Regions from separate parts of the Homo sapiens genome. Here region 2 is linked to region 1. Evidence: fine-mapped expression QTL. A gene starts in region 1. The other region holds a variant in brackets. All regions are shown on one strand. Distances are between the middles of the regions.

Region 1 (8,756 bases):
TTCTACGTACACAGAGACAAAATCAGATGGATGTAAAGCACACAGGACCCCAAGACTTTGGAACATAAAAGATCACACCACATCATGTGTGTTCGGCACAGGCATGCATGTACACACAGACACGATGCTGGAGACAAGCAAAATAACAGGACACACAAAATTGGCTGAATGCAGGAGGAAAAAGGGGTCGATGAGGTCAGCTGAATGTGAGAAAACAAAAATCTATTAGGTTGGTGCAAAAGTAATTGTGGTTTTTACCATAAGAACTGGCAAAACCCGCAATTACTTTTGCACCAACCTGATAGATAACGACACCCCAGGAGACGCGATCACACAGAATGACTGGTGTGCATTGCACAAATACACATCTACCTATGCACAGCCCAGCCAGAGACTCACCTTGCCCATCCCAGAGTGTGCGTGCCCCATCTTCACAACCACGGGGTACGTTGTACTGCTGAGCTGGTGGGGAAAAGGCAGAGGAGACATGCTCAGGGCAGAAAGGGTGACCTCCAGGGGTGGGGCGGCACTGAGGGGATCCCAGCCAGTGGGAACTGCATTATGAGTCACTTCCCAGGACACACAGGTCAGAGACAGGCAGGCAGCAGCTGGGGGTCACACAGTGTCTCCACCTCCGGGCCCAGAATTGAACCCAGAGCCCTGTCTGTCTGTCCCTCACTCCACCCCACCAACAAGTTCCAGACGTCCCGCCCCTGCTTTCCCGGGCAGAGGCATGGTATGAGCGTGGGGGACTGTTCCAGTAAAAAGAAAGTTTGTTTTTACAGTGGATGGATGATAGTGAGGCAAGTGTGTGCCAGTGCGTGTGTGTGGGGGTGGGGGGGGTGGGGAGTGGTGGTGAGCATGTAGTGACTGAACCCCTCAGCCAAACCTTGTATGTAAGCCTCACCTGCACACATAAACTATTGAGAGGCATGAGCCCTTGGAACTCAGATGTACATCGCCAAACCCAGAGATGCCAGTGACATTGAGACTGACAGCCAACACAGGCTCAAAGCACATGAGCTCTGGAGCAGCACAGACACCCACACAGTCATTCAGCCAGCCAGGTGCCCATAGCGTGGGTCAGCAGCCAGCACTCCAGGGCAGCACACACTGGACACCCTTAGGCACACAATCAATACTTGGGCACACACCCAGGTTCCCTCCCCTCACCCAAACCCACATCACCATCAGGGGAACACACACAACACAAAAGATTACCCGTCCAATCAAGAGACACACAACTCCACAGGCACACTCCACAGAACCGGGCACATACTCAACACACAGGCACACATAAAACACCCCTAGGCAAATGCACAGCAAATAAGGCCCTACACAACACACAGAGGTGTATGCACTTCTAGGTATTCACATCACCACTGGGACCCGTAAGAGACCCACGCCACATTCCTGGGCATACAAAAAGTATATCTAGACACACACACAACATGCCTTGCCACATATACAATACAGAGAGGCTACACACAACCAGAGACACCCACAACTCAGTTTGCAGAAAACATTCCTGGGCACTCCCACCCCAACACACATACAGTCACACATTCAGGCGAGAGGGATACCTCAAGTCTCCCCCGCTCCTGGATGGGGTAGAGGAAACCAGGTTGGACGGCCCTAGGCTCCCCGCTCCCTCCACCCCCACCCCCACAGCACAGCTGCACAGTGCCCCTCTGGTGGCCCTCCCTCTCGCTGACAAGGTAGAGAGATGGCATTCCCGGAGGGGCTGCTGGGGCGGTGGTGGTTCCCAGTTCCCGACAGGCACAGGAAGCCCGCAGACTCAGGGTGACCGATTGACCTTAAGGCCTCCCTCTGCACACCCCCCCTTCCTCATTTCCCAAATGACTGGCGTCATTATGAGGTGGGCTGAGAGGCACGATGTTGGGACGGGGGTTTGGGGCATCTCTGGGCAGCGGGCCAGGGAAACGATGCCGAGGCGGATGCATACAGTACCACCCAGGTGTGCGCACAGCACACAGAAGTGCATAATGCACTCAGTTACATATGCAACCCAGATCCGCTTTGCCGAGGCTGGTAGACAACTCCCAGAAGTAACACACAAAACACACAGGCACATGCTCGACTCTTAGCAATGGACACACAACACACCAGAGAGCTGTGCGTACACACCCATACCTCCCCCAACAACCCTGAGGTTTCTAGGTGCCTCTTTTCGTTAACTGTCCTTGTTTTCTCTGGACTTGAGCCTGAACACAACGCTCTGTATATGTGTGTGTGCCCATACATGTGTGCATGCAGAGTGCTTTGAACTCTGACTCTGGGAGCTCCTGGAAAGCCCTAGGTCTGAATTTTGGCCTTTCTTCTTCCTAAGGCCATGAAGGACACAACCTCTCCCTGAGCCTCAGTTTCCCCATCTGCACAAAGAGCACAATGAGGCCCAAGCACCTGGTATGCTGTGGGCATTGTCAGGTGTCCGCTTTGCACATGCCTCCTGGACCCCCATGGGCCCCCACACCCATCCAGCTCCCCAGATGGTCACACACCCCTCCATGAACACCCCTCCCACTCTCCATTTCAAAACTGCACAATAACCGGATCCACACGACTCCTCATGTAAACAGTCGGCAACACTCTGTGCTGACTCAGGTTTCAAAGAGTTGGCGTCAGAACCAGAGTCAGCGAGGGGCCAAGGCAGGACTTCCCCTGCCCTCACTTCTCCCTCGGAGGCACCAGGTTACTCAGCCCCGTCTCATTCACTCTCACTGTCCCACTTTCATAATCAGCTCCTACAGATTTTTTTGGTTTACTTCCCTTCCTCCCTGTTTTTGTCGCCCCCCCACCCTCCCCCCACCACCCCGCAGCAGAGCCATTTCTTCATTCTCATTCCTGGGTAGGTCACTCAGCCCTTTTGTGTCTAAGTTTCCTCATCTGTATAATGAGAACATGAGCTATATCTAACTCACAGGGATATTGTGAGAAATAAGTTAGTTATTTTGGGAAAAATGCTCTACATGGTATCGGGCATACAGTAAGCCTCGATCCTCAAGAAGTGTTGGGTACTCTTATTATTGGCTTAACATCTCTTCCTTAACTAACATTAATGAACAAAGAGGCAATCGGGATTGATTAAATGAGATAATGTCTGTAAAAAGACTTTAGAACAGTGCTTTTTTTTTTTTTTTTAAATAGAGACAGGGTTTCACCATGTTGCCCAGACTGGTCTTGAACTCCTGAGCTCAAGCGATCTGCCTGCCTCAGCCTCCCAAAGTGCTGGGATTACAGGTGTGAGCCACCATGCCCGGCCAAGTGCTTTCTTAAAAAATAGATTTAGGCTGGGTGCCGTAGCTCACGCATGTAATCGCAGCACTTTGGGAGGCTGAGGTGGGCGGATCACCCGAGGTCAGGAGTTTGAGACCAGCCTGGCCAACATGGTGAAACCCCGTCTCTACTAAAAATACAAAAATTAGCCAGGCGTGGTGGCGTGTGCCTGTAACCCCAGCTACTGAGGAGGCTGAGGCAGGAGAATTGCTTGAACCCAGGAGGTGGAGGTTGCAGTGAGCCAAGATCTTGCCATTGCACTCCAGCCTGGGAAACAAGATCGAAACTCTGTCTAAAAAAAAAAAAAAGATTTAGAAGGCCGGGTGTGGTGGCTCACGCCTGTAATCCCAACACTTTGGGAGGTCGAGGCAGGTGGATCACCTGAAGTCAGGAGTTCGAGATCTGACCAATATGGTGAAACCCCCGTCTCTACTAAAACTACAAAAATTAGCTGGGGGTGGTGGTGGTGTGGCTGTAATCCCAGCTACTCAGGAGGCTGAGACAGGAGAATCTCTTGAACCCCGGAGGCGGAGGTTGCAGTGAGCTGAGATCGCGCCACTGCACTCCAGCCTAGGTGACAGAGCAAGACTCTTGTCAAAAAAAAAAAATAGATTTAGAGGGTACAGCTGCAGTTTTGTGACATGGATATATTACATAGTGGTGAAGTCTGGGCTTTTAGTGTCCCCATCAACCAAATAGTGTACATTGTACCCATTAGGCAATTTCTCATCCCTCACATTCCTCCCACCCAGAATAGTGCTGGATACGCAGTAAGCACTCCATAAGGGCTGCTGGTAGTTTTTGTTGTGTTCTTGTTATTGGGCTATCATCCCTGAGTTAATCAAACTTAATTAGCAAGGGAGTATGGTGAGTGAATGAGATAATTTATACAAACACTTTAGCACATAGTACACAGAAAGTGCTCAATAAGTGGCTGCCATCATCACTACAATTATTATTATTGATCTATCCTCCTCGAATTAAGGATGTTAATCAGAACCCCAGGGAAGGTTCCTGCATTGTCAGAAAGCTGGTGGGCAAGGATTGCCCCACCCCACCCCCCACCAGGGGTACAGGTCCATGGGGAGGGGGCAGGGCAGGATGGGGTGGGGATTAGTTTTCTACTGACCCACTCACTTGCTTCTTTCACCATCATTCATGGCCACCCCCTTCCCAATGCTCATTCATTCACCCGCACCATTCCCTGCTTGCTAGGACGGTGCCACTCCTGAGTTACAACCCTGGTGCCAGGTAGCCTCTGTTTGAATCCCGGCCATGCCCTGTGATCTTAGGAAAATTCTACAGTTCCTCTACGCCCCATATTTCCTCATCCGTAAAACGGGAATAAGAACCGGTACCCATCTCAGAGATTTGTTGTGAGCTTTGAGTGAGATAAACTATGCTGAGTGCCTGGTATACAGTAGGTGCTGTATAAATGCCGGCTATTTGCCTGTGTTATTTGAGACCCTGGCTTTGGCTCCTGGCCACCTGAGTTCCAGTCTCAGTTCTGCCATGTATTGACTCTGTGATCCTGGGTAAGTCACTTAACCACTCCGTGCCTCAGTTTCCCCATTTTGTATTCCTCCCCTTTCACCTGCCTTATCTCCCTCCACTGCTGCTACTTAATTTGTTTCCTCTCTGCCACCCCTCACCAGCATGTCAGACATACAAAACAAGGGATTTTTGTGTGCTTGGCACACAGTAGATGCACAATAAATGTTGAAGGGCTGAACTAATTTGGGTTTGAGTCATAGGGAGCTTGGGGGATGTGGGTGATTGGATAGATTCTGGAGACTTTAGGGGACTGGGCCGGGGGAAATGCGGCCTCTAAGCTCTCCGCTGAGGCGGCTTGGAAGGAATAGTGACTGACGTGGAGGTGGGGGAGGTGGCTGGCCCGGGCGAGGCCCAGGGAGAGGGAGAGGAGGCGGGTGGGAGAGGAGGAGGGTGTATCTCCTTTCGTCGGCCCGCCCCTTGGCTTCTGCACTGATGGTGGGTGGATGAGTAATGCATCCAGGAAGCCTGGAGGCCTGTGGTTTCCGCACCCGCTGCCACCCCCGCCCCTAGCGTGGACATTTATCCTCTAGCGCTCAGGCCCTGCCGCCATCGCCGCAGATCCAGCGCCCAGAGAGACACCAGAGGTAAGCAGGGCCCGGGGTGGCCCAGCAGGGACCGGAGCTGGGCTGCAGCTTGGGTGCTGGCCACCAGGCCCGTGCACTCCCGTGCCAGATGCCTGTCTACTCAGCTTGGCCTGCGGGTACCAGGACCCTGGGCTAGTCTAGGGGGAAGAGGGTCGGAGGCTGGAACTGCTTTCCCAACCCCGAGGCTCCAAACTCCCTAGAACCCCTGACATCCGCCCCCAATTCCCCCAAACCCATGACCCCCTAATATCACAAATGCTTTCCAAATCCCCCCGCAAATTCCTTCATCCCGAAATTTCCCTCATCGCCCCCTAAATACCCACCGCTAACCCCTGCAGCTCCCTAAACTCCCCCAGCTCCCCAATCCCCAGTTCCCCAGCTCCCAAACTTCTTTTGCCCTCAAATTCCTCAAGTATCCCCATTGCCTTAAGCCCCCAAATTCCCCCAACCCCTTCAACCTCCAAACTCCCCCAGCTCCCTAAACCCCCAACCTCCTCCAAATTCCTCAACCTCCCTAAATTCCCCCAGCCTCTTATATCTCTTAATATACACAACCCCTAAACTCTGCCGTCTCCAAACTCCTCCAGCCCCCAATCCCAAATTCCTCACCCCCAAACTCCTCAACCTCCAGAATTCCCCAATCCCCTCATTCCTCAAACTTCCTCAGCCCCCTTCTCCCCCAAGTGCCACAACCCCATAACCCCGCAACTCACTCAGTCCCTCAATAATTTAAACTCTCCCAACTCTCTAAACCCTAAATTCCTCTGCGCTCCCCAATCCCCTTAAAATCCCTAAGCTTACCAACCCCTCAAGCCCAAATCCAGCCCCCTAATCCCCCCCATAGGCTGCCCCGGGGCAAGATGGGGTGGATGACCTGCCCAGGTCAGCAGATCAGCTGGGCCGGGGCCTGCCTGACATCCCCCTTCCCCACAGAACCCACCATGGCCCCCTTTGAGCCCCTGGCTTCTGGCATCCTGTTGTTGCTGTGGCTGATAGCCCCCAGCAGGGCCTGCACCTGTGTCCCACCCCACCCACAGACGGCCTTCTGCAATTCCGACCTCGGTGAGTCCTCACCCCACTCAGCCCACACACTCTGCCTTGGTTTCCCTTTCAGTCCAGTGGGGCTCACCATGGCACTTACCTCTAGAATGATTCCACTCGCCCCTGCACTTCCTCTGCTTTAGCCACACTGGCATCCTCACACTTCCTTGAGTACTCTGTGCCCAAGCCCACCACAGGATCTGCATGCTGGCTGCTCCCTCTGCCTGGTACACTTTCCCCCCAGGTATCCACATGGGTGGCTGCCTCAAACGTCACCTTCTCAGGATGGCCTTCCCTGGCCATCCTGTTTAAAATTTTAACCCCTGCCCCTTAGTACTCCTGATCTCCTGTTAAACAGAAAAATATTCAGTGATACTTGTTATAACACAGTAAGGAAGACCATATTCAGGACCATGGTGATGGGTATAGGAACCACTGCAATGGGATCTTGCAGTCGGTGGGAGAGATTGGGCTCAACACTGAATATAGCATGGGCCAGTGGGAATGTGTAGCTAAGGAGCAGTGTGAGGGTCTGTGGGTGGAAATTACTAAGAAGAAACATCAGGGGTAAGGGGGATTCTGGCTAAACCGACGTAACAGGATTCTTGCTGAAGGCAGGCCAAGGGGAATCAGACATCACCTGGGGGATGGTGGAAGATGAAGAACCCAGTCAGATAGCAAGGATGATCAGGTATTGAGGATGATCAGAGATTGAGGATGATCAGAGATTGAGGATGATCAGGTATTGAGGATGATCAGAGATTGAGGATGATCAGGTATTGAGGATGATCAGAGATTGAGGATGATCAGGTATTGAGGATGATCAGAGATTGAGGATGATCAGATATAGAATATAGGGGTTCTTGCTAAACTGACTTAGCAAGGCTCTCGGCTAAAACTGGATTTTACAAGGAAGTGCACAGATGGGCCTAGGAGGAGGTTCAGGAGCCTGAGTAAAGTTTGGTCAAGCAAAGAATCTTTGTCAGCCCCTTACCCAGGTCTGTAATTCCCCATTATACTTAATGTCTAACATTCCATATCCTTATTTTGTTTGTTCTTAGCCTGTCTCCTCCTGGCTAGAATGTGAACTCCACAAGGAAAGGGATTTCTGTGTTTTGTTCACTGTTGTGTCCCTAACACCCAGAACAATGTCTGGCACACAGTGGGCACTCCCAAATATTTGAGGAGTAAATGAACAAATCAATGTATGAAAATGGCTTAAGCAGTGCCCGGCAAAGAGAGACACTCAACATACAGATGAATCAATGAACAAATGTGTAAATCACTTTGTGTGCTGTCTGGCATCCAATAACCCCTATTTATGTATGCGCTTTGCTGGTATGATGATGATGATGATGATGATCTTATTTTTATTGGCTCATGCAGTCCATTTGACTCATATTTCCCTCCTCTCCTGCAGTCATCAGGGCCAAGTTCGTGGGGACACCAGAAGTCAACCAGACCACCTTATACCAGCGTTATGAGATCAAGATGACCAAGGTATCCCCTGCCCCCGCCTCTTTCCCAGCATTTTCTAACATCTTCCTCCTGGTCAAAACAGAAACTTCTGGCCACTGGTTGGTGCGAGAAAGTTGGCTGTGATCTTGGGATGCTATATGACTTCAGGGAAGAACCTGGAGTGGGAGGATTATGTCAGTAAAAGAGACACTTCCCCTCATCCATCAACAGATGTATAAAGGGTTCCAAGCCTTAGGGGATGCCGCTGACATCCGGTTCGTCTACACCCCCGCCATGGAGAGTGTCTGCGGATACTTCCACAGGTCCCACAACCGCAGCGAGGAGTTTCTCATTGCTGGTGAGGCACCGTCCCCGCGCCCTGTGCCACACCAACCAGTCCCTGGGGCGCGGCCTAGCAACCACGAGGGGGCGAGGCTCTGATGGGAATGGTCCCACTGGAAATGGGGACCACCCCAATTTCAGTCTATCAGAAGGCCGGGCCTTTGGCAGCTTGGCAGCTCAGCCAATCACAAGCTGCTTGTCGGTCCCCGCCCCGCCTTTCTCCTTAGGAAAACTGCAGGATGGACTCTTGCACATCACTACCTGCAGTTTTGTGGCTCCCTGGAACAGCCTGAGCTTAGCTCAGCGCCGGGGCTTCACCAAGACCTACACTGTTGGCTGTGAGGAATGCACAGTGAGTGCCTGGACCCTGACCTCCAACGGGAGATCCTTCCCGGGGCCATTCCCTAAATCGTGGGCTTGTTTCTTGCTCCCTCTGGCTATTCTGTGTCCCTGTGGCTGCTCCCCAACCCTAAGGGCTGT
Region 2 (9,241 bases), 26 kb after region 1:
GTGATTTTTTTTATAATAGCAGTTAGAATGTTAACCATATTAGTAATTATTTCTATTAGGAACTACAAGATAATTCAAAACACAGGTACTCATGGGTTATATTAGTAATCTTAATTTGTAACACTGGTAATAGTTATATCTGTAAAAATTTTTACACTGTTTGTACTAATGGTTTAATTTTATTTACTTATTTATTTAATGTTTTGAGACAGGGTCTCACTCTGTTGCCCAGGTTGGGATGCGGTGGTGCTATCATGGCTCACTGCAGCCTCAACCTCCAGGGCTCAAGCAATCTTCCCACCTCAGCTTCCCAAGTAGCTGGGACTACAGGTGTATGCCACCATGCCGGGCTGATTTTTAAATTTTTTGTAGAAATGGGGTCTCGCTATGTTGCCCAGGCTGGTCTCAAACTCCTGGGCTCACGAGATCCTCCCACTTTGGGTTTAAATTTTTAAAAAATAATTATAACAATTTACAACATAAGTACTAATCATTTATAGTAATAAACTTAATTTGTAACACTGTAATGCATTGTAATATTAGTTGTTATATTTGATGATATTAGCAATGATAATTCAATTTCTATTATTTAAACGTTCAGCATATTTTATTCTGGCACATTGTAGCCCAATGACCCAACTGTGGTAGTCTCCACTGCATGCCATGTTTATGTAAGTCAAAACAGGTACTTATAATTTATATTAGAGCATAATTTGTAATAGCAATAATCATTTGTAATAACAGCAATAATCTTTGATGCTATTAGTAATGATTATTCAATTTCTACTAGAAACTATAATTTAATTCATGACATAGGTACTCATAATTTACAACAGTAAAAATAATTTATAATATTAGTGATAATTTGTAATATTAGTGATTATATATATATATATATTTTTTTTTTTTTTTTTTGAGATGGAGTTTCGCTCTTGTTGCCCAAGCTGGAGTGTAATAGCGTGATCTTGGCTCACCACAACCTCCGCCTCCCGGGTTCCAGCGATTCCCCTGCCTCAACTTCCCAGGTAGCTGGGATTACAGGCATGCACCACCACGCCGGGCTAATTTTGTATTTTTTTAGTAGAGACAGGGTTTCTCCATGTTGGTCAGGCTGGTCTCAAACTCCCGACCTCAGGTGATCCGCCCACTTCGGCCTCCCGAAGTGTTGGGATTACAGGCATGAGCCACCGCGCCCGGCCAGTGATTATATTTCATAATAGTAACCAAAAGTTCAATTTCTATTAATTAATTAATAGGAGGGAGGCTGAGGTGGGACTCTGTTGCCCAAGCTGGAGTGCAGTGGCGTGATCTCTGGTCACTGCAACCTCCAACTCCCGGGTTCAAGTGATTCTCCTGCCTCAGCCTCCCAAGTAGCTGGGACTACAGGCACGCACCACCATGCCCAGCTAATTTTTGTATTTTTAGTAGAGACGGGGTCTCATTATGTTGACCAGGCTGGTCTTGATCTCCTGACCTCATGATCTGCTCACCTCAGCCTCTCAAAGTGCTGGGATTACAGGCATGAGCCACCGTGCCTTGCCAACAATTTAATTTATAACATTATTATTGATAAATGTTATTGGCAATCCTAATTTGAATATAGGTAAAATTTCTATCAGAAGGAATATTTGATAATGTTAGTAATAATGACTTAATTTCTATATGTAATATATTCTGATTCATTACATTAATTCTGTCAATTCACATTAGAAATAGGTTTTTAATACTGGCAAAAATAGACAACATGAGTAACAGGATCTGATACATATTAGAATGGATCATGATTTAGTTTTCCTTGTAAGCATAAGGAAATTCACGGTAGACCCTATCACAAAGCAACTTCATGACTCCACGTGCACACAGCAGCCACACTCTTGATATCGCACTGCTGATAATATACCAATATTTAATATTATTGCAGTAGTTATGACTCTTCCCTCCTGCCCACTCTATTTTCCCCAAACTCACCATTTCTTTGTGATTGGGGTAGAAGGTCTGATCAATTAGAGGGAATTCTTCTGTCCCCAGTTTCTTATGCAGTCGAACCATCTGGGCAAACTATGAGAACCAGGAGAGCTGGGTCAGTGAGTCCTTCACCACGAATCTGTAAGTTTCTGAACACCCTCACTTCCCCAAATCGCAGACTGGTTTCAAGCTCCCACATACATGCATGAGCTGTTCCCTCTGCCAGTGGCACCCTTCCTGTTACTTACCACCCAGGGCTTGTCACAGAAGTTGTAGACAGAATGCAAGGAGTTAACACTGGGGATTCCAGCATACTGCAGCCCAATGACCAAACTGCGGTAGTCTCCGTTGCGTGCCATGCTGAAGGCGTGCTGGCGGATCAGCACAAAATCCGGCTTCAGAGACCTAGTGTGGCAGGGGTAGGAGTGTTGAGAGTTCCCCCAGAAGCTCCCAATCACTCTCGAAACAAAGACCAAGTTTTTAAATCTCCATAGCTCCCAGAAATTGCAAAGTGGTTTCTCACCTCTGCACACATGTGTGAGCTGTTCCCTCTGCCTAGTGCACCCTTTCTACCCTCTGCCCACCTGGTGATCCCCTTTAAGCCTCTCCTACCTGTTCCCTTCTCAGCAAGGTCAGCTTGCAGCTTACCGACACAGCTCTGACAACTCCCTGGTCACCATCTCTCAGACTGCAAGCTGTCTTCAGTGTTCTGCCCAGAATAAATTCTAACCTTGGGACCTTTACCAAGGCTGTTCCATCTGCCTAAAGCACTTCCCCCCTAGATATCTGCATGGATCACTCCTTCACCTCCATCAGGTCTTTCCTCAAATGTCTCTCCTGCAACCAGGCCACCCTATCCCAACTGCAGACCCCACCATCATCCAACAATTGCTACATCTGCTTTAGTGCTATATATATATTTTTTTCTTTTTTTTTTTTCTGTTGAGACGGACTGTTGCTCTGTTGTCCAGGCGCTGGAGCAATCATGGCTCACTGTAATCTCCGCCTCTCGGGTTCAAGCGATTTCCCTGCCTCAGCCTCCCGAGTAGCTGGGATTACAGGCACCTGCCACCACGCCTGGCTAATTTTTTTATTTTTAGTAGAGACGGGGTTTCACCATGTTGGCCAGGCTGATTTTGAACTCCTGGGCTCAAGCAATCCACCCACCTTGGCCTCCCAAAGTGCTGGGATTATAGGCATGAGCCACCACATCCGGCCACTGTTATGTTTTTTCTTAGCACTTTTACATTTTCTTATTTATTTGTGTATTGTGTGTATCTCACAGTAGAATGTAAGTTTCATAAGGCCCAGGTTCTTTTTCTTTTTTTTTTTTTGGCCTTTCAGCATGTAGAATATCTCCTGGCACACAGTAGGTGTACAATAAATATTTATTGAATATGAAGTCCTGAGAGCAGCATCTGGCATGCAGCAGATGTCTAGCAAATGTTTATTTAATTAATAATTGAAGGCTGGGTGTGGCGGCTCATGCCTGTAATCCCAGCACTTTGAGAGGACAAGGCAGGTAGATTGTTTGAGCCCAGAAGTTTGAGACAAACCTGGGCAACATAGTGAGGACCCCCCCCATCTCTACAAAAAACATAAAAATTAGCTAGGCATGGTGGTGCGCACCTGTAGTCTCAGCTACTTGGGAGGCTGAGGTGGGAGGATCACTTGAGCCTGAGAGGTTGCAGCTGCAGAGAGCCATGATTGTGCCAGTGCACTCCAGCCTGGGAGACAGAGCAAGACCCTGTCTGAAATATATATATATATATATATATTTTTTTTTAAAGTCTGACTTGTGGCATCCTGGGGTCCCTGGCTCTTTTTCTGAAGAAAAGTTGTCTCCCCACATTCCATGCCTAAGTTCTTGCCCACAGAAGGATGGGTGGGGAGGTAGGAACTTTCCCCCAGCTCTAAGGGAGAGTTCTTATGCCTTGCTCATAACACCAAGGTACCCTTCTTATACTCACCGCACGACCTTCACCCCATTCCGAAGAACTTCCATATCCACAGAGAATCCACCATTGGCATGGGCCACAAGGTTGAGATCAGAGAATTCGGCCTGGGAAGGAGAAAAAAACTGGTGATTCACCTACATCACACAAAAATGGCCACTCAGTTTGCAGTATGGACAACTGACCCCCAGGTCCAAATGTCCCAACTTACCTGTTCTACTTTAATGTCAATTTCTCCATGGATCTTTTTCCCTTTGAAGTATTTTGCCCTGGAGAGGAAAAACAACACATCTGTCAATGATGAAATCTCAGAAGGGAAGACAAAACACAGGCCCTTGACCCTTTTGCCCCTTCAATGCTACTAAAGAAACCACAAAGTGCCTTATAATTATTGAAATATTTTGAAAAAATCAAGAGTGCTTTGTGAATAATGTCTGTTGTAATCCTCATGGAGTTGCAAAAATATTAAAGGACATTGCAAACTGTAAAATGTGGCCTTACACTGCAGAGAGCAGGTATTTCCCAAAATTTAGTCTGCTCATCACATTGTCATTGTAAATTTTTTAAAAAAACTTCACAAAATTAGCAGCACTATGTAAATTAGAACATACTTTGAAATTGCATGGAGACCGGTAAACAGCAAAGAACCTTAGAAAACACCTATCTGGCCAGGTACGGTGGCTTACGCCTGTAATCTCAGCACTTTGGGAGGCTGGAGGTAGGAGGATTGCTTCAGGCCAAGGGTTGGAGACCACCCTGGACAATATAGAGAGACCCCCATCTCTACAAAAAAAATTGAAAAAAAAAAAAAAAAAACAAAAGCCGAGGGCTGTGGCTCACGTCTATAATCCCACAACTTTGAGAGGCCAAGGCGGGTGGATCACCTGAGGTCAAGAGTTCGAGACCAGCCTGACCAACATGGTGAAACCCCTTCTCTACTAAAATACAAAATTAGCCAGGTGTAGTGGTGCATGCCTGTATTCCCAGCTACTTGGGAGGCTGAGGCAGGAGAATCACTTGGACCCAGGAGGCGGAAGTTGCAGTGAGCCAAAATGGTGCTATTACACTCCA[G/A]CCTGGGCAACAAGAGCGAGACTCCATCTCCAAAAAACCCAAAAAACAAAAACTAGCCAGGCATAGTGGTGCATGCCTGTAGTCCCAGCTACTGGGGAGGCTGAGGCAGGAGAATGGCTTGAGCCCAGGAGGTCGAGGCTGTAGTGAGCCGTGATTGCACCACTGCACTCCAGCTTGGGGAACAGAGCAAGACCTAGGCAAAAAAGAGAAAGAAATAAAGAGAAAGGAAGGAAGGAAGGAAGGAAGGAAGGAAGGAAGGAAGGAAGGAAGGAAGGAAGGAAGGAAGGAAGGGGAAGGAAGGAAGGGGAAGGAAGGAAGGAAGGAGAGAAAGAAACTACATTTCTCTGAAGCGTGCCTGTTTTTGTGTATTTTTTAGTGCCTGTGTATATGTCAGTGCCTGTGTCTGGCTGTGTGGCCTGAAGCATCTCTCTGCTCTCTGGCCCTTTCGCAAGGAGGAGCACATTCACCATGTGTGGTTGTGTGCTGTGAGAAACACAATGGCCATAGGTGGGCAGCTGCATCCGATAAGGAGGAGTGGATTGAGTGGTGCAGGCTGGGTGGCTCTAGAGAAGCCAGTGTAGCTGGCAATGATGGGGGGCAGGGAGGAATGCAGCTGAGGAGGAGAGGGAGCAACAGGAGGGAGGGGGAGTGGGAGCAGCAGTAGGAACATCACGAACTGCTATGTCATTGTCCCCGGGCCCGTCCCCAGCTGGGCTTGGTTTCCGGTGGCCTCCTCCCCCAGGCTCAAGATTTCTAGCCAACAGGCTGCTTGCTCCAGGGATGGAAGCTCATCCTCAATCAGGTTTATCATGGAAGGGGGATGAGGGGGAGAGACACTTTCAGGGCTACTGGTCACTGACACACATACAATCAGGGTCTTGGACAGACACACACACACACACACACACACACACACACACACGGCACAAATGGACCCTGGTGACTTGACTGACATATGCAAGAGACCCCAAGTACAGCTACTTCTTTTTCCTTGCTCTCTCTCTGACACACACACACACACACACACACACACACACACCATCGCTGACACTATCCCCTCAGAAGTGTTGAGAGAGAATCTCTCTCAGCCCTGCACATTTTTCATCTATAAACTGATGAGTGGGGATGATGAGGGTGTATCACTGTTTCTAAAACTTTTCTGACCATAAGTGTAGTTGGATACTGTGGTGGTCTGCTCAGGCCTCCTCTTCAGGGACAATGTACCTTGAATGGCAGCTACTGACAGCTCATGGCTGTGTCCCCACTGGGAATTGTCTTGTCACAGGGAACTGCCTTGTCCAAGGTTACACCTACTTCATGAGGGCATCCCCATGGTCTGGTCTATGAAGGGAAAGAAAGGCCAGCCTCCTTGCCTCAATCTGGGCTGACTCTGAAGGACCCTCCCAGCCCCAGGGCTCCCCCTAAGAGCAGCGGAGGCCCCTAAGGCAACTACATCTTGAGCCAGCCTCTTCCTCTGCTCAACCCAACCCTCCTCACAAGTGTTGATCCCAATGGCACACTCCAGTAAGCCTCCTGCATGCAAATCTCCACCTCAAAGTCTTTTTCCAGGGAACCCAACCTAAAACAGTGGGCCATGGAAGTCAAACTACAAGGGTGGTCTAATGCAATTCTGGAGCTGGGTTACCCAGCAGCCAGATGGCAGTGAGGACCCATCAGTAGTGGGAGGTGGGGCATAGATAGCCTCCGATATGCTGTAGCAACGCAAAGTGCTCTGCAGCAGGTCCGGGCTGTGGTGCAAGCAGGATGTGACTTAGGCCATATGATCCAGCAGATCCTATGACACTGGAGGTGTCAGTAGTAGGAAAAGATGCTGTGTGGAATTTCTTCTCCCAGGTGGGAGAATACAGCGCAGGCCCCCAGGGTTTTGGAGTAGCGGTGACTTTTCCTGATGGTGGGCTGTAATGGGATTCTGGTGGAAGGGAATGTACTGGATGGTGAAATATCCCTGGAACTTGAGTGATGTCAGGGAAATGGTAACCAGACTTGGGTGACTATTCCCTAAACGCCATTGAGTAGCTGAAGAAAGACCTGACATGCTCAGGGTGAATTCAAGGCAAAATGTGAAAGCCAGAGGATCTCCCTGACTGCATTTAAGGAAACCCTCATCTCCTGCAGTCAGAGGGCAGACAGAAGGGAGGGCCAGGCTCAGAATTTAATTCTACGTGGTGGCGGAGCTTCGGAGAAAGTTGACTTCTCAGGCCCAGCACATCTCCTGGGCCATGCTCATGTCCCTAATAGGACAGGAGTAGGACTCTGAGATGGGGATATCTGGGCAGATGCAGTTAAACACCTTGAACTTACAGACTCACCTGCATCCACTGGGCCTGCTGAAGTAGACTACTCCCCTGAGTTAGAATATAGACCTTCTGCTTGAAGATAATGCAGAGGCCTCGGATGATGCAGGTGCTTTGTAAGACAATGCCTGCCCCCCTCAGAGTCTACCCCCCACCTACCCTCCTGGAAACCAGACCAAAAATTAGGGTGAAATCCTAGTGAAACCTGACTGGACAGGTTCTAGGCTTGCAAAGGGAGAGAAATGATCTGTAGAAGAACCTAAAGAATCTGGCTAGTACGTATTGGCAGGAGCTGGGAAGGTATGCATGAGACTGGATCCTGAGGACAATGGGCGAAGGAGGTAGAACAGGAAGTTGGTGTGCTCTCCCAGGATACGGAACTTAAAACCCTGGCGAGGACTCTAGGAAGTGTTACTAACACACTGGTATTTGGAAACCTGGAGTAAACAATGGCCCACACTAAGTGAAGCAGAACTTCCATGGCAGATTGCACAGGGAAGGATTAAAGGGCTCAAAGAAGCAGACATGTTGGAGTAGATATACTACTGAAGTCTGGAAAACCCACCAGCTGATTAAGGCCTGGAGGATACACTCAACTTATGAAATTAATAAGAAACATGCTGGTGAGGGTGGTACCAGTCACGCTGAGAAGCACAGTAGTGGTAAGGTGATAAATGAGTCCTGGCCCAGGTCCTGCTTACAGTGGGTCTGGTGGGTCTAGAGACCCACCCAGTGGTCACTTCCTCAGTTCACAAATGCGTAATTGCAATGGCATACTTTGTAGTTGTCAGAACCCCTACATGGGCTCCTCAGCCTGTGGGATAAGAGCTGTTTCAGTAGGGAAGTCCAAATAGAAGCTTCTAAAATGGCGCACACCCCCATGCCCTGAACAAAACAATAAACCACAAACAATATTGTGTGCATCCTATGGGTGATGATGGAAATCAATGCCACATTGAAAGATCTAAAGGATGCAGGGGTGTTGGTCTCATCTTATCTCCATCGAGTTGAGCAGTCTGGCCCCTGGAGAGGTCAGATGGGTCCTGGAGAATGCTTGCAGATTACTGCAAGCACAATCAAGTAGTACCCTTAGTTATACCTGCCATACTGGACACGCTGTCATTGCCAGAGCAGATTAATAAGACCTCAGGTACAGCAGGTGGCTGCTGACTTGGCAAATGCATTCTTTTTTATTCTGATTAGAAAAAAGGATCAGAAACAGTTTACACTCACATGAGACTGATGATAATATTCATAGATGGTCTTGCTGTAGGGCTATGCTATCTCTCTCACCTGGTGTCATAATATAGTCCAGAGAAACCTGGACTATCTGGACATCCCATGGAATAGCACACTGGACCACCACATGGATTACATCATACTGATTGTGCAAGATGAGCAAGAGAGGGTGAGCATATTGCCCTGGTAAGACACATCCACTACAGAGGGTGGAGGATAAACTCCACAAAGACTCAGGGGACCGATGCATTAGTAAAATTTTTAGGAATCCAGTGGTCCAGGGCAGTAAACCAGGACAGCCCCTCCAAAGAATAGAGCAAAGCATTGAATCACGCACCTTCCACCATGAAGAGGAAAGCACAATACCTAGGAGGCCTCTTCCCATTCTGGAGGCAGCATGTCCCCCACACACAAATAATGCTCTGACCCATATTCCAGGCGACATGTAAAGCTACCAGCTTTGTGTGAGGGCCAGAGCAGAAAAGGGCTCTGCAGCAGGTCCAGGCTGTGGTACAAGCAGTCCTGCCATTTAGGCCAGATGATCTGGCAGATCTTATGATACTGGAGGTGTCAGTAGTGGGGAAAGATGCAGTGAGGAGCTTATGGGAAGCCTGAGTGGGAGGCCCTTGGGGTTCTGGAGCAAAGCCATGCCATCTGCAGCAGAGAATTTTACGCCTTTTGAGAAAGACACCCCAT

Alleles and levels. Alleles are on the strand shown, and positions count from the first base shown. SD is a standard deviation of normalised expression in the study named.
For the expression in whole blood of the gene that starts at base 5,397 in region 1, allele G in region 2 goes with a lower level than allele A (small effect, 0.17 SD a copy in GTEx).

The links.
Region 2: its variant is fine-mapped to the expression of TIMP1 in whole blood (TOPMed, PIP above 0.99).

The regions. Positions count from the first base shown.
Region 1 is chrX:47,577,040-47,585,795 of GRCh38, forward strand. TIMP1 (TIMP metallopeptidase inhibitor 1) reads left to right here and starts at 5,397. Exons shown (of 6, transcript NM_003254.3): 1 at 5,397-5,435; 2 at 6,369-6,497; 3 at 7,897-7,976; 4 at 8,166-8,292; 5 at 8,504-8,628. The coding sequence starts at 6,377. SYN1 (synapsin I) reads right to left here. Exons shown (of 13, transcript NM_006950.3): 6 at 400-462. RefSeq lists an enhancer at 411-705, a cis regulatory region at 2,407-2,927 and silencers at 2,541-2,714, 5,045-5,194, 5,255-5,354.
Region 2 is chrX:47,603,010-47,612,250 of GRCh38, forward strand. It overlaps SYN1 (synapsin I), which reads right to left. Exons shown (of 13, transcript NM_006950.3): 2 at 4,132-4,189; 3 at 3,936-4,027; 4 at 2,214-2,370; 5 at 1,969-2,058. Among named protein-coding and RNA genes, the nearest start is that of SYN1, 12 kb to the right of the region's middle. The variant G/A (reference allele first, on the strand shown) is at 4,992.